Linked DNA regions of Homo sapiens. The protein of the gene in region 4 purifies or fractionates together with the protein of the main gene of each other region. This does not show direct contact. Each region holds a gene or a part of one and is shown on either strand. Other genes may lie near its edges.

Region 1 (4,015 bases), on a different chromosome or scaffold from region 4:
ACACAGGGCCTGGATCTATAAATAACTGCCAAAAAAAATGAAGAGCAAAGGTTATACATTTCCTTTGTAAAAAGAACTGAGCTTCAAATATTCATGCTCCAAATTATTTTTAAATAGTCACTGTAAGTGTCATTTCACTTTGTCTAGCAGACATAGCAATTAGCAGAGTGCCTGAGCAGCTATAAATGTTCTCATTTAGTCTGGTTTTTGTTCAGGATAATGAATATAAATGCTTGTTTTGACTAAATGAATGGTTCTCCTAGGCCAGTGCTGAATAAATGCTTGTGCTATTGTGACGCTTCTGACCCAGGCAGGAGACATGTGCTTCCATCTCCAGAACAGCAACCCCTGAATGACCCCTCGATACAATGGAGAAAAGAAGTGCTGTGTAATTTAGGGGCATAAACCAAACCTCCACTGCTTAGAGTCAGCTTAATGTCTGACAGAAATATACAAAACTGTAAAGCCTCAACCAGACATCTGAATAATCTGTCCATACATTTTTCACATATCAGTATTTATTATCTTTTCAAAGGAACAGGTCAAGATGAGAATAAAGTTTATGATCAAAGGTAGTCAAACATTTATTTTATATAAATATAATTTCCTTGCCTATATCCATTAGATTTGGGGAAAAAAGGTTCAAGTTTACAGTGCCAGAACAGCTCCTTCTTTAAAGGCTTGTAAACAGTGACTTGTTCTATGCCAGCATGCACACTTTGAGCATATCAACTCACTTAATCCTTACCAACAATTCTATGAAGATTGTGCTATCATTCCCATTTCACAGATAAAAACTAATGTATCTAGATATGATAATCTTGCTCAGGATCATGCACTGGGATTTGAACCTAAGTGATCTATTCTCTGATGCCGTACTATCAATGCAGTACAATTTTTAACTGCATGAATGCACACTGCAGAGCAACAGCAATTGAACAATGATCATTTGCCTTTTGGAAATTATGGCCACATACTTTGTGTAGCTTGATTTACAAATAGCTTGGCTAAAAAGCAGTTCAGCAAATCAACTTCTTAAAATAGGCTATGAAGGAAAAGTGCATGATGAAGCCAGCAGTAAACAAAGAAATTACACAATTTGGTGAGAGAGGGTTTGGAGGTGGAGGGGAGTTGTTAAAGGCCTGGAATCATTGAAAAGTTTGGGGATGACAGTGACTTGGTACAACTGAGAGAACTGCCCCTCAAAAGATTAGAAGGACAATTGATTGGCAAGAGACACTTGACAGAGCCAGTATTGAGTTCCATTTATTTTGGAGCAGTATGCATCTGCTGGGTTTGGGTACTCTGGAAAAATCCAAAACATAATATAATGGAAAAAGCATGGGTAAAAATCACTTATTAGCAAGTTGTTTAATCTTTGAGCCTCTTCGTTCATCTATAAATTTAGAATATGAATATCAACTTTGAAGTGTTGCTGTGAAAATTAAATAAAACCATATATGGCGGAATAGGTGCCCAAAATTGGTTAATCATGAAAAATTTACCATCATCAAGATGTAAAATAATTAGCTGTTGTTGTTGGGGCAGGGCTTGGAGTTGGGGGTTGGATATTAAGATTCCAAACCTGTATAATCTTTTATCTGGAAAACCTACCAGATAAAACAAAGAGATTACCACCCCCATGTTTTTAGGGAGAGAGACAGAAAGTATGACACACAAAAGAATTAATTTGTTCAACTTTGATGGAAGGTAAACCCCTTTAGTTCTCACTTTGTTTTTAAGACTAGGAAAAGATTCAAACTTCTTAATTATGGATTATCCACCATGTTCTTTCCTTCCTCGGAATCTTTGAGATCCAAGAACGTCTGTTCTTTAAGATGTAACAAAAAACACCTGAAGAAATTTGAAAATGACAGAATGTTAAATCATAATAGATAGCAGAATTATGGTTTTGTAAGAAAATACCTGATTTTTAGGAGATGCATGCTGATATATTTAGTGGTGAAGTTCAATGATGTTTGCAACTTCACATGGTTCAAAAAATTTTATAAATATATAATTATACATATACATAAAGCAAATATGGCAAATTGTTGTTGAATTTAGATGATGGCAATATGAGTAGTGTTTAAAATAGTTAGGTCAGGCGGGGTGCAGTGGCTCACGCCTGGAATCCCAACACTTTGGGAAGCCAATGAGGGAAGATCACTTAAGTGATCTCCCTCTTGCAACATAGCAAGACCTCGTCTCTACAAAAAATAAAGATTAGCCAGGCATGGTGGCAAATACCTGTGGTCCCAGCTACTTGGGAGGCTGAGGAGGAAGGATCACTTGAGCCTGGGAGTTCGGCTGCAGTGAGCCATGTTTATACTACTGCACTCCAGCCTGGGTGACAAAGCAACATCTTGTCTCAGAAAAATAAAAAAATAAAATAGTTGGAGCTGTTTGTTTTAGAGGCAAGGTGTTGCTCTGTCACCCAGGCTGGAGTGCAGTGGCACAATCATAGTTCACTATAACCTCCTCGAATTCCTGGGCTCAAGTGGTCCTCCCACTTCAGCTTCCCAAGTAGCACTTTTTTTTTTGTACAGATGGGGGTCTCACTATGTTGTCCAGGCTGGTCTCAAACTCCTGTCCTCAAGTGATCCTCCTGCCTCAGCTTCCCAAAGCATTGGGATTATAGGCATGAACCACCATGCCCAGCTCTTAAAATCGTTTATAATAAAACATGAGGGGTGGGGGGAACCAAGAGGTTGCATTTAGGGACAATCCTAGGTATAATTTTTCCATCTTTTTCCTTTTCCATTCATAGTACAGATGGTTAGGGGAGAGGGTGGTAATGCAGAAAACAACTGATATTAGAGAAGTAACAGTAAATTCAGCCACAAGTCAACTGAAAGACAAGTTCTACACAACTTCTGAAACATCTTGTAAGAGTCCAGATGGTGAGAAGTCAGTAACTAAAATCAGTGGTTTTAGGAATTCTTTTGCCAGGAAGGAACAAAGCACTGGGTGGGAGTATTAGCCTTTCCAATGGGCCTATCAAGAGAATTTATCCAGGAATATTTAGGAACCACATTCTAAAGACGTTACAAAGGCAATTACAGAAGAAAATGTCATGTAGTTCCCTCTGTTCAGAACACACACAATCTTGAGAATCATCCCTCTTTATCTAATAATTAATGCTTACCTGCAAATGAACATATCAATCTTAAGAGGTGGTATAAGAAAAAAAGAATTATATAGGAAATAAGCCAAAGTCTTATAAAATTTGAAGGTGTTATTAAAGGATTAAAAAGGAAACAAAAGGATTGTGATAAGAAGCAAAAAAAAAACATTTTTTTTACATAACCAGAAAACAAATTAAAAAATTAAAATCCCCCAAGAAACCAAATTAACTCATTTTTTTAGTTAACTTACTAAATGTTTTGGAACATACAAAGTGCAAAATATCTTTTGCATCCCTTTAAGAAACACCTGCCTTTCTTTGGTAAAGAATTTCTTGCAGGAAAGATTCCAAAGTTTGAAGTTCCCTCCAACGATCCCAGCAGAAATGTTTCTAACTTCTAAGAATGTCCTAAGAGAATGAGCTAAAACACAGAAAATGTTGAAAGTCTTATTTAGAATATTAAAAACTGGAAGCAATCTAAAGGTCTAACAGTGGAAGAATGATGTATTTATAATGTGAATATACATGTGATGTCCAACAATTTCAATTCTAAGTATGAAGAGTAAGCCACAATAAAGAATGTTAAAAAACAATAATTAGTAAGTAAATATAATTATAAAACCAAGTCAGAAATACAAAAAAAGGGACAACTATACTGGAATGATGAAATTCGATTTCTGTTTCCTGCCTCCTCCCTTGCTGGCTCTATAATTTTTTTTTTTAATTCTTAGAATAGGAAAAAAAGGTAAGAATGCTATGGCTGGAAGGCCACTAGTAAACAAGCACATATAAAGGGTCCTCAAGACAAGACCTAATATGGGTATGAAACTAAATGTTATAAGGAAGGTCATTGTCCTCAGCAACTGACTCTGCTATTTTTACCCCAAA
Region 2 (3,500 bases), on a different chromosome or scaffold from region 4:
TTACAATAACATTCACATCTTCCTCAGTCACTACCTCCATAATGAGATTATTTCCTTCTTAATTACCTATTTCTGAGGAACTTGAGGTTTTCTACTCCAGGGCCACCTCACTGCACAATTCCCAAGGGCACTGAACTGAATTCCATGTACCTTTTATATGCCCTAGAGCAGCAACACTGCAACTCTATTAGTGCCTACTACTTTGTTTAATGGAACAGCTTCCCTTGAAAGTTCAGAATAAATGAATGAACTAGACTACTACTAGTTTGTTCCTCTCAGTTCTTCAATTTCATGGTTCTTAAAGGATGACCAAAGAAGCGAATACTCTTATGTTTTGGGTTGGTGGGAGGATGACTGGTCCCATTTCCAAATCTGGGCAGTTTTTCTATGAAAATATCATTTTACAAGTCGCATCTAATTTCTCACAGTTTAAATGTAAATATTTCTAACAGTTTAAAGTTTTTAAGTTTATTATTTTATTTTATTTTTATTTATTTATTTTTGAGATAGAGTCTTGCTCTGCTGCCCAGACTAGAGTGCAGTAGTGCAATCTCGGTTCACTGCAACCTCCACCTCCCTGGTTCAAGCAACTCCCCTGCCTCAGCCTCCTGAGTGGCTGGGATTACAGGTGCCTGCAACCACATCTGACTAATTTTTTTGTATTTTTAGTAGACACAGGGTTTCACCATGTTGGCCAGACTGGTCTTGAACTCCTGACCTCAGGCAATCCGCCCGCCTCGGCCTCCCAAAGTGCTGGGATTACAGGCACGAGCCACTGCGTCCAGCCTTAAGTTTATTTTTAAAAGTTAAATTCCTAATCCTGAACAATTTAAGCCTCTACCTTCTTGAGTCTCTTTGGATCTTTGGAGTAACGAGGCCATTTCTTGATTTAAAGACTGAACTTCATTCCTCAGCAGCTGATTCTCCAGTCGAAGGTTAGACAGTTCATGTGATTTGCCATCATCATTAGGTGTTGGGGTGTGGTCAGGGCAGGCAGCATTTGATGACACATTTTCCTTTGAAGATTCCTCTTGACCTTCATGGCTAGAATCTGAGTTACTGGCAGCTTCTGTAAAAAAAAGAATACGTTTTTGTTACATTGGCGTGTTCATCACATATGCATTAACAACTTGCTTTGGTAGGATGCTCAAGTTGACTGCTACAGCTAAAACACCATAAAAAGTAAATTCTCAGCTAGGCGCGGTGGCTCATGCCTGTAATCCCAGCATTTTGGGAGGCCGAGGCAGGGAGATCACTTGAGGTCAGGAGTTTGAGACCAGCCTGACCAACACGGTGAAACCCCATCTCTACCAAAAATACAAAAATTAGCCAGGTGTGGTGGCACACACCTGTAGTGCCAGCTACTCAGGAGGCTGAGGCAGGAGAATCACTTGAGCCTGGGAGGCCAAAGGTGTTGCAGTGAGCCAAGATTGCACCACTGCACTCCAGCCTGGGCAACAGAGCGAGACTCCATCTCAAAAAAAATACATAAATAAACAAATTTTCAATAGTCTTCCCTCTGATTAAATTTCATTCTCATAAATGGGGCATATGGACCTCTAAGGATACTCAAGTCTGGATACACTGAATGAATGACAACAGACAGTACAACACCATTCTGGGGAGAACATCAGAGATCATGTGAGTGGTTGGGTTCAGGTAAAATGGGTTTGGATTTCCTTTTGTCTCCAAAATGCTTTTGGGAAAAAAAACCAGGAGAAGTCTCAAATACTGAAAAATTGGGAAGGCACAATAGAGTAGCTGCAGGTTTCAAGGCAAGAAGAGTAATAACAGGTCACTACAAGGTTTTTTGTTTTTTTTTTTTAATCAAACTGGAATCTAACATGTCTTACCCAAAGAGATAGAGACACATGAATTCAGATTAATCTTGTTTTTGTTACTAAATATAATGCAAGTATACTTTTAAATTACTCTAAAAATTATGTGATGAAAATGAACTATATATCTAAATAATAAAACTGACTAAAACAATCAGTATATGGGTAAAAGACTTGATACTTTATAAGGTTATATAAACAAATATCAATAATCAAATGAAAAAGTTCTGAACATGTTTAGTCATCAAGGAAATGCAAATTAAAATCACAATGAGAACCAACAGACACCCCCTAGAATGGCTAAAATTAAAAACACCAAATGTTGGTGACACTGCAGAGCAACTAGACCTCTCACTGCTGGTGGGACTATAAAATGGTACAATCACTGGGGGAAAAGGTTTTACAATTTCTTATGAAATTAAACATGCAGCTACCGTTTCACCCAGCAATTCCACTCCTAGGTATTTATACAAGAGAAATGAAAACATTTGCCCACAAAAAAGCAAGTACAAAAATGTTTATAGCAGTTTTATTCACAATAATCCAAAACTGGAAACAAACCCAATGTCCATAAAAGAGAATAGATAAACTGTGGTACAGCCGTATAATAGAGTACTACATAATAAAACAGAATAAAAAAAGAACAGTAACATGGATGAATCTCACTAACAGTTCAGTAAAAGAAGCCAGATTAGAAAGTATATATACTATATGATTCAATTTATATGAAGTTTTAGAACAAGCAAAACTAAGGAGAGAAAAATCAGAGCACTGGGTGCTTTCAGGGACGGGGTGAGGAGATTAAGTGGAAAGGAACATGAGGAACTTTCTGGGGCAAAGGAAATCTATAACACGGTAAAGGTGTGGGTTACACAGGTATTGCCATTCGTCATATAGCTAAGATTTGTGTGCATCTTAATATATGTACATTTTACCTAAAAGAAAAAATAACCACAAAAAGCTAATAATCAAGTGGGGTAGGGAATGGGCACCTAAGACGTGACTTAAAAATGGGAGTGTTGGCAGGGCGTGGTGGCTCACGCCTGTAATCCCAGCACTTTGGGAGGCTGAGGCAGGCGGATCACAAGGTCAGGAGTTTGAGACCAGCCTGGCCAACATAGTGAAACCCTGTTTCTACTAAAAATTAGCTGGGCATGGTGGCGGGTGCCTGTAATCTCAGCTACTTCGGAGGCTGAGGCAGGAGAATCGCTTGAACCTGGGAGGCAGAGGTTGCAATGAGCTGAGACTGCACCACTGCACTCCAGCCTGGGCAAAAGGTGAGACCCTGTCTCAAAAAAAAAAAAAAAAAAAGAAAGAAATTATTACATTTTTAAGGTGATAATGGTGTGAACATTTGCTTTTAGAGTATTTTTAGAGTAAGAAAATGAAATGTTTATAGAAAAAATGATATAAGATCTGTGATTTGCTTCAAATTAATTGTGCGGAGGGTGCAGGTGAAGAAAGTGATGGGAAATGGGAGGGTATAAATGAAACATGAATGGCCATGAGTGATTACTGTAGTTGGATAATAGGAGGTCATTACGTTCTATTTTGGTATGTTTGAAATTTCTAAAATAAAGATTTTAAAAAGAAATGAAGTAGGCCAGGCGTGGTGGCTCACGCCTGTAATCCCAGCACTTTGGGAGGCCGAGGAGAAAGGAC
Region 3 (3,500 bases), on a different chromosome or scaffold from region 4:
CATTTAGGTAACTAATCTCCTTTGTATTCGTCAGATAATTTTGATTTAATTTTGCCAGAATTTCTAGGTATTGATTTAGTTTTTAAAATGCTAACTTCAAGTTAGGTAAGTTCTGGAGCACTTCAGAATTGAGAGAGCTCTTCTCACCTGTACAGTCTCTCTTGCTCTTCACATCCACCCCAATAGAGGAGTCTTACTGTTTTCCCTTCCCAACACGTGATTAATTCATTGATTCTCAAAAAGGTTAAGTGACTTACCCAATGTCACCCATTCATGTACTTGGTAAACATTTTCCCTTCCCGACAGATGATTAATTCATTGATTCTCAAAAAGGTTAAGTGACTTACCCAATGTCACCCATTCATGTACTTGGTAAACACTAATGTTATTTTATAATAGTATATATTTAATAATAGTAATCATAATATAGCTAACATTTATTGAGCACTTATTATGTGTAAGGCACTGTTTTAGGCACTTTACATGTATTAGCTCATTTAATCTCCATAACAGCCCTATGATAAAGATGCTATTTAAAGCCTACTCTGATGAATCACTTTGCTAATTTCTAAGGCTGCATAAATGATAATGAAGAGGTAGCTGCCCTTAGGAACTGACAGTTAATATTAAACAGTTAACTAATACAGGGCCATATGTACATCATAGATTTATGTGCACAGTGCTATGAGAACACAGAGGAGGAGGACCTGGCTCTGAAGGGACCAAAAACCATTCTTTTTCATTCTTTTTTTTTTTTTTTTTTTTTTTTTTTTTTTTTTTTTTTTTAGACGGAGTCTCACTCTGTCACCCAGGCTAGAGAACAATGGCGTGAACTCAGCTCACTGCAACCTCCGCCTTCCGGGTTTAAGCAGTTCTCTGCCTCAGCCTGCCAAGTAGCTGGGATTACAGGTACCTGCCACCACACCCGGTTAATTTTTGTGTTTTTAGTGGAGACGGGGTTTCACCATCTTGGCCAGGCTGGTCTTGAACTCCTGACCTTGTGATCCACCCACCTCAGCCTCCCAAAGTGCTGGGATTACAGGTGTGAGCCACTGTGCCCGGCCCAAAAACCATTCTTATGACTTATTGCATTCACGTAATTCATTCATTCATTCATTGAAGGCCTACTGTGGGCCAGGTATTATGCTAGGCCCTTGGAATATGATGAGGACTCCTGGGCCAAGGCTGTTTATTTTTTTATTGTTGTTTGTTTGTTTGTTTGTTTGTGACAGAGCCTGGCTCTGTTGGCCCAGGCTGGAGTGCAATGGCACGATCTCGGCTTATTGCAGCCTCCACCAAGGCTGTTTCTAACATACTACACTGTCTCTCTGAAGGCACAGCCAGACTTTAAGGGAACTCTTGGTTTTAAAATAATCTGGTTTTGTTTATACTTTATTATCGTCTACTAGCCTGGGACCAAATTCTTTGAAAAATTTTCCCCAATGCCTCTAATTTAGAATCATATTAGAAATAAACTAAGATCCTATAATATAAAAGCCTATATATGTGGAATCAGTCATATCTAGGAAAATCAAATAATAGAATAAAGACTGAATACATTCATTATTTTTAAGGCAAGTGAAATATTGAGGTTGACTGAAATGAGTCACTGTTACTTCTCATAAATAGATTAATCGTAAATTTAAAGTTAGTTAAAAATAGTGATAAAAGATTTTAATAGCAAATTATAAGTAAGCACTGATTAAATGGATTATATCAATGTTTTATTAAACCTTGCTCTGAAAATAGTACTTATGACATAAAGTTTGATTAACATACTAGATTCAGATTTGATTATGGATGGGTGTAATCATTGTTACGGAGAGGTACCGTGGTGCAGTAGTTAAGAACAAGGACTTTGGAGTCAGACGGATGACATGGTAATTGTGGTACTTAACCTCTGTTATCCTTGGTATCTTTGTCTATGGAATGGAGTAATAAAAGCTATCTCAGAGAATTATGAATATGATAATCTTAAAGGAACCAAGGTCGCATTATTAAATTTTACTATCATTTAATTTCCAGATGAAAATAATTCTCAGAAACAAAACTTCTATTGAGTCATGGATTGAAGAGAAGGTAAATTTTAATAATTGTTTCTTCAATATTAAAAAAGTATATTAATAAAGGACTGGTAAAGTCCTGAATATTAATAAAGTCTGTTATTAGACCGGATTAACGAAAAGTGCCTAAAAGTGAAAACATGGCTGCCAAATGGCTACCGTAAGTCATTTGCATGCCACATAAAAGGTGAATATAGGAAACATTTTTGTTCATTCTGTAACTCCCACAGAAAGGTGCTTCTCATACACCCTGAGTGGTCGCAGAGGCCTAAGCCACACGTCAAACCATCTGTTTGTTGTCTCTTAGACTAGAGGAGAAAGCAGCCCATTTGGAAAGGAGCTTCCACCCTACCAAACTGCCATCAGGTTTTTCTCAGTGTTTTAGACATTCAATGAAGCTCCTAACATTTTGCTTGTCACAGACCTCACAATGTCCAATACTTCATACTGTCCATTGTGATTCTAGCATGAAACACAAATCTGACTACCCTGCTCTGTGTTTAAAACTTCTCAGAGCCTCACCATTCCTGTGGCAGGGGTTGAAACCCAAATACCTGCAGGGTCTGGGCAGATAACGTCCATGAAGGGGAGCAAGCCTGTATACCAAAGAATTGCCTGGCAGACCAAGCTGATTGTTGCCACAGGGGAATATTCACAATTTCCAAATTACAAAATAGGGAGAAGAATAGCATCGTTTTATATCTTTACAAATCTCTTTAGTATCTTTGACTTAAGAGAAGATGGTTGGATTCTCACTTCTGCATTCAGTCTGTTGAGATATGTTGCTTCGATTGAAGTATGTGAAGATCTAGCCTCACACAGATAAGTAGGTAGAAAAGGATAGAATATTTTAATAGGCCTTTTACATGATAATAGTGGATGTTCTTCCGTATTACATTGAAAACTTGACAAGTGATATTTCTTATCAATAAGATTTTTATACCTTTTTATTTTAAAACTCATCAGTCTATCTTGCTCTTTGAATTAATCTTTTACCAGTATGTGGTTTTATGTAACATCAGGCATCGGTCATTTGGCAAATACTAGTTTACTGTGTTATGTAGATTTTGCAAACGTTAAACACCTTTCATTATACAATATCCCAAAATTGCATTCACGTATATCAATATATCATTTTTATGAGAAAAAATCCTTAAGTATTGGAAAGCTGTCAGGCTCACAGTGGTAGATACAAGGTTTTTTTTTTTGTAATTCTAGTATACATTTGAAAGCCTTAATTTTTTACTATTAACCCATACTGTCAGTCATTTCCCTTGAAGTGACTGCCTGACTGTTCGTTTTTGAGAAAATGTTCACCAAGTCCTGAAGTCTGAATAACCTTAGTTTGCTATATTACTCATTCTTTCAAATAAGAATAGTGTTACATTAAAAAAGCTGGCTCTACAGCTTTTGTTAGCTTACAGCTTAACAACTATT
Region 4 (5,501 bases):
ACAGGGATGGGTTACCAAACTCCGCTTCTCATACATGCTTATTTTCACAAGTATGTGCCCATAAATCATACATATGTTTTCAAGCTTTATACAAACAGTGATGGGCTGGTATTATCCTCCTGCAACCAGTTTTTTTTAAAAGCTCAACATTACATTTCTGAGATTTATCCATGCAGATGCACAAAACTCAGTTCACTATTTTCAACTGGTTTGACTTTTCCACAATTAGTGAGACAAGCTGTGTATACATCTCCCCAGGCATACATGGAAGTTTCTCTGATACATGCAGGGAGAGCTTTCTTTTTTTTCTTTTTTCTTTTTTTGAGAAGGAGTCTCACTCTGTCACCAGGCTGGAGTGCTATAGCACAATCTCAGCTCACTGCAACCTCTGACTCCCTTGTTAAAGGGATTCTCCTGCCTCAGCCTCCTGAGTAGCTGGGATTACAGAGCTGGGATTACAGGCACGTGCCACCATGCCCAGCTAATTTTAGTATTTTAATAGAGACGGAGTTTCACTATGTTGGCCAGATGGTCTCAATCTCCTGACCTCGTGATCCGCCCACCTTGGCTTCCCAAAGTGCTGGGATTACAGGCATGAGCCACCATGTCCGGCCCATGCAGGGAGAGCTTTCTAAAGCACGGATCTGATCCCACCTTGCTTAACATTCAACAGCCCCCCACTCGGCCCACAGGATCAAGTCCAAACTCTTATGTGGCCTCCTGAAATCTAGCCCCTATCTGCTTCCCTAAACCCTCCCTGCACCACACTCTCTGGCCCCTGAGCTTTCCTCAAAGGCTCCCTTTCTGGGATACCCAGGCCCCGGCTTCCTCTAGATTCTGAGCACCAAGAAGCCTGCCTGCCTGTCCTGTTCACCACTGCACCCCAGTGCCTGGCACACAGCGGGTACTCGGCAAAGACGCACCAACTGCCTGGTCACTCTGCACCTCTCCCTCTTCATGGCCTCAGCCGCACAGGCTGCTTTCCCTCTCCTGTGTTCGCTCCACGGAATCCGCTCTTCCTCTCCTCACGGCTCCTGTCTTCTGAGGACCCTCATCTGCCACCTCCTTCTCCAATCCAAGTTTCCCAGCTCAAACCCTGCGATAAATCCTTTCAACCCTCCAACCCTCCTTACCCCTAACCTCCCACCAATCCTTCCTTGCCACTAGTGGATTCAGGTTTTATGGGGCCTGAAGCTTATACAAGTTGGGGCAAGGAGTGGTAATTCCTTAAGAGAAGAATAGTTATGAATGTAAAAGTGCTGAGCCTCTTGCCAGAGTTTTGGCAAGAGGATTTGTGCAAGGTTTTGGAAGGTATTTGTGCAAGTGAAGAGGCTAGAGGCTTCATCATAAACCCAGATCTGCTTGTCATTCACCAGACCCATGTAACTTGCCCTGTCCACTTCTTCATTTCCACTCAAAGGCTGCCAACATCAGCTACAAAACTCTGTGGGACTCTAGAAATGCATATTTTCTAATCTCTCTTGGACCCTCAGCATTACTCAGAAAACCTTTAATGCATTTCTTGCTGAATCCAAATTTCATATGCCCCAAAAACCTTTTATATATCCCTAAGTCCTCACATTCACTTCTGAATCCTCTCTCGGCAAAAACAAACCAAACCAAACCAAAACAAAACAAATAAAAAAAATACCCCAAAATTCATTTGACTTTTATACACTGTCAACTTCACACCAATTCTGTGAAGTGGATGTAATTGTTGTTATTCCCATTTCACAGATAAGACAACTGAGTCAGAGGTGAAGTAATATATCTAAGGTCACTGAACTATACACAGAAGAGCCAAGTTTTCTGGCCTCAAGCCCATTCTTCCCCTAAATACCGCAATGCTCGGGAGTTGAACTAAATCAAACCCAGCGTGGTCAGCTAGGGGCTGGGCTGGGGTACCCTGGGACTGCCGGTTTCTTAAAGAAGACTTCAGCCCACCTCAACCCCGATTTGCTTTTTTGTTTCACAGGCATATTCTGGAGTAGGCCGCCCAGAGCATAGCATGAGGCTGTGTGGCTAAAGGAACTTTCGTGTCCAGAAGTAAGCAAAAACCACTGAAATTTACTGGTCCTGAAAACAGCCTGCACATTAAGGAATAAAGATGGTGGGGCAGGTTGGGCAGAAGAAATTCAGGCACGACTGAAATGCAAAGCATTTCTGACACTGATAGGAAGGCTTATTGATAGAGAAAGGCTTGGGACCCACTGCTCCACATTTACAGCTTAAAAAGAAAAGAAAAGCAAAGGGACAAAACTAGTTTTTACCGACTTACAAGATATTTTCTACAACTAGGGAAGACACAGAGTAATGTCATCCAATACAGTTTAGAGTAGAATTCCATTGCGCCAATAAAGCACAAGGTACATTAAGAGGATTATTTTAAATATTCTGAACGCTTATTTAGCCTTAAGGTTCTATAGCAAAGGCAAAGGGTGGCAAAGACAAGATTATGCAACAAAACAGCGAAATTTTGCTTTCTAAAAAAAAGAGAATATGATTACACTTAACACCTCCTGGCAACAATGATCTCGTGCAGAATAAACACCCAAAGGCAAAGAGCTGAGACAGAGTCCTCGGTCCTTTCTGGTTTTTTTGTTTTTTGTTTTGTTTTGGTTTGGTTTGGTTTTTGTTTTTTTAAACAGAGACAGCCTCTGCCGGACCCAGTAGCTCACGCCTGTAATCCCAGCACTTTGGGAGGCAGAGGCGGGCGGATCACCTGAGGTCAGGCGTTCGAGACCAGCCTGACCAACATGGGGAAACCCCGTTTCTACTAAAAATACAAAAATTAGCCGGGCGTGGTGGCGGACGCCTGTAATCCCAGGAGCCAAGACCGCGCCACTACACTCCAGCCTGGGCGACAGAGCGAGACTCCGTCTCAAATAATAATAATAATGATAAAGTAATAATAATAGAAACAGCCTCTCACTCTGGCCCCCAGGCTGAAGTGCAGTGGCGCGATTTCGGCTCACTGAAACCTCCGCCCCCGCCGGGTTCAAGCATTCTCCCGCCTCAGCCTCCGGAGTAGATAAGACTATAGGCGGCGCCACCGCGCCCGGCTAAGTGCTTTTTTACGGAGACAGAAGTTCCGCCATGTTGCCCAGGCTGCTCTCGCCTGAGCTCACGCGATCCTCCCGCCTCGGCCTCCCAAAGCGCTGGGATTACAGGCTGGAGCCACCTCGCCGGGCCCTTCTCTGGTTCTTTAACGTCCCGCTACCGCGCAGGGGTGGACGCGGAGATAGGGGCTGGGCGCGGTGGACACGGCCGCTCAGGCCCAGCGCAGCCTCCTAGGGAGCCTCCGGACAGGCCGCGGGCAGGCGGCCGGGGCTGCGGGGGGTGCGGCCCAGGCCACGTACAGGGTCCCCCGGGAAACCCAGCTGCACGCCCCCTCGCCCCTTCGCCCTCTCACCCCTCGCCGCAGCACCTACCTGCAGCCCAAGCCTCTGCGGCTCCTGCCACCCCGGGCCAGCACGCACTGGGCCTACTGCGCTTGCGCGTTCGGAAGCGCGTCCTGGGCGGGTGAGCGTGGCGCTGCTGCCCCCTGGCGTCCTCCTCCGGCCGTGCACTGAAGCCGGAGCGAACGCCGCGGCGGTACCAGCGCGCACCTACCCAGTCTCCCTGTCTGGCTTCTGCTTCCCTAACTTGGGAGAACGATTTTGTGTTGACCGACTATTGCTTCAGCCTGGAGCCAGGCTCATGCAGAGCAGCTGTCAGATCTAGACGCACTGCGAGGCCTTCCAAAGCGTAGTCCTCAGACCCGCGGCATCTGCAGGGACCTTGCTGGAAAGGCTGATTCCCAGCTCCGGCCCAGACCCGCCACTCGGGGACCCAGATGCCTGAAGTTGGACAATCGCTCTGTAAAAGAAACTGTGGGGCTTAGCCTAGACGCAGTAAAGCTGAGCTGCACACATCAAGCGCAGCAGACAAGACCTTGGCAAGCCTCCGCGGAGGGGCAGGACTGGGCAAAGGCGGGGAAGTCCGTCGAGGGCCGGCCAGGAGCCCTGCCGGGAGCCCAACACGCACTCGGGCGCTTGCTCCGGGAAACCGAAAGGGAGGCTTGCAGCATCGAAGTCAGCTGGGTCATGGAACGTCTAGGTTGTGTACATCGGAAGCGTTAGCTGCTTCTACACTGACACACTGCGAAAGTCCAGAATCAAGACAGTAACATGGTGTGGGTTAAAAAAACTGAGCCGGTACTAGCTATCCAAACAGTATTAAAATTAACAGAAACGTTTGCCTATCACATGGACAAACAGCGGTAATACCTCCTGTCGTTACAGTAGAGTCTGAAAGTTTCCTCACACATACAAGTGAGTGTAAATTGGAATTCCTCCTACGTGCCCTAGCAAATCCATTTCTAGGAATTTATCCTTCAGAAATAACGTCTGTGGCCGGGCGCCGTGGCTCATGCCTGTAATCCCAGGACTTTGGGAGGCCGAGGTGGGCGGATCACGAGGTCAGGAGACCGAGACCATCCTGGATAACACGGTGAAACCCCGTCTCTACTAAAAATACAAAAAATTAGCCGGGCATGGTGGCGGGCGTGAGAATGGCGTGAACCCGGGAGGCGGAGCTTGCAGTGAGCCGAGATCGCGCCACTGTACTCCAGCCTGGGTGACAGAGCGAGACTCCGTCTCAAAAAAAAAAAAAAAAAAAAAGAAAAAGAAATAATATGTCTGCAAGATGTATGCACAAGAGATCTTGCTGAAGCATTGCTGATAAAAGATATTTATAATAGAGAAAAAAAGAAACCTGAATGTATAACAATAGGGGTTTCTGAAAGAAATTATATTACATCCACATAGCCATGAAAAATACTAACGGGTGCACAGTTTCAGTGTGAGAAGATGGTAAAGTCCTGGAGATGGATGGGGGTGATGGTTGCACAACAGTGTGAATATACACCAATAAATTGGGTGGAGGCCGAGAGCTCGGGGCCGTGAGCAAGCCTCCAACGCTCCGGTCCCCCGGACCCGCCTTTTAAACTCTTATTCTAATTCCTTTGTCTTCGCTGGACTCGGGGTACCCGCCGGGTGGTGTGGGGCTGGTTTCCCCAACAACTTCACTCTAGCCTGGGCAAAAGAGCAAAGCTCCGTCTCAAACAAACAAAGATAGAAACCAACCAGCAGCTCTCCTTGCTGAGTTCTTTGCCACGTGGCCACCATTTTGTGCCCACAGGCTTTTTGGGGGTGCTGGGAAAAGGTGAAATTTTAACACTGATGAAAAATTAGAGGAATTAAATTCAAACAAAAAATTAAAAATAAAAAGAACAGCAGAATTTGACGCACCATCAAACTGGTTGTGTCACCCATCTTCAAGCTGAAGGTAGTCCAAAGCCTGGAACTGAGTGTCGGGGGCACACACAGAGACTCGGGAGAAACCCTCTGATTCTGGCTCGTGGAGCAGAAAAGGAAACTCCTAACCCTCAGAGGGAGTGAAGAAAATTCCCTGTTCTTTCTATTTTCTTCTTTTCTTTGCACTCCAGCCCCCAGTCAAGC

Evidence for each region.
Region 1: the proteins of POMK (region 4) and PIGM purify together in Homo sapiens (affinity purification with mass spectrometry; 3 studies listed by BioGRID and IntAct, with this or other methods). This does not show direct contact.
Region 2: the proteins of POMK (region 4) and GOLGA5 purify together in Homo sapiens (affinity purification with mass spectrometry; 4 studies listed by BioGRID and IntAct, with this or other methods). This does not show direct contact.
Region 3: the proteins of POMK (region 4) and ZDHHC6 purify together in Homo sapiens (affinity purification with mass spectrometry; 4 studies listed by BioGRID and IntAct, with this or other methods). This does not show direct contact.

The regions. Positions count from the first base shown.
Region 1 is NC_000001.11:160,024,453-160,028,467, forward strand, and holds the end of PIGM (GPI alpha-1,4-mannosyltransferase I, catalytic subunit), read right to left. Parts: 3' UTR 501-4,015; downstream 1-500.
Region 2 is NC_000014.9:92,804,305-92,807,804, reverse strand, and holds part of GOLGA5 (golgin subfamily A member 5), read right to left. Parts: intron 1,070-3,500; coding exon 842-1,069; intron 1-841. UniProt on the Homo sapiens protein: Involved in maintaining Golgi structure. Stimulates the formation of Golgi stacks and ribbons. Involved in intra-Golgi retrograde transport.
Region 3 is NC_000010.11:112,436,915-112,440,414, reverse strand, and holds part of ZDHHC6 (palmitoyltransferase ZDHHC6), read left to right. Parts: intron 1-762; exon of another isoform or gene 763-909; intron 910-2,025; coding exon 2,026-2,079; intron 2,080-3,500. UniProt on the Homo sapiens protein: Endoplasmic reticulum palmitoyl acyltransferase that mediates palmitoylation of proteins such as AMFR, CALX, ITPR1 and TFRC.
Region 4 is NC_000008.11:43,091,494-43,096,994, reverse strand, and holds the start of POMK (protein O-mannose kinase), read right to left. Parts: upstream 3,481-5,501; 5' UTR 3,432-3,480; intron 1-3,431. UniProt on the Homo sapiens protein: Protein O-mannose kinase that specifically mediates phosphorylation at the 6-position of an O-mannose of the trisaccharide (N-acetylgalactosamine (GalNAc)-beta-1,3-N-acetylglucosamine (GlcNAc)-beta-1,4-mannose) to generate phosphorylated O-mannosyl trisaccharide (N-acetylgalactosamine-beta-1,3-N-acetylglucosamine-beta-1,4-(phosphate-6-)mannose).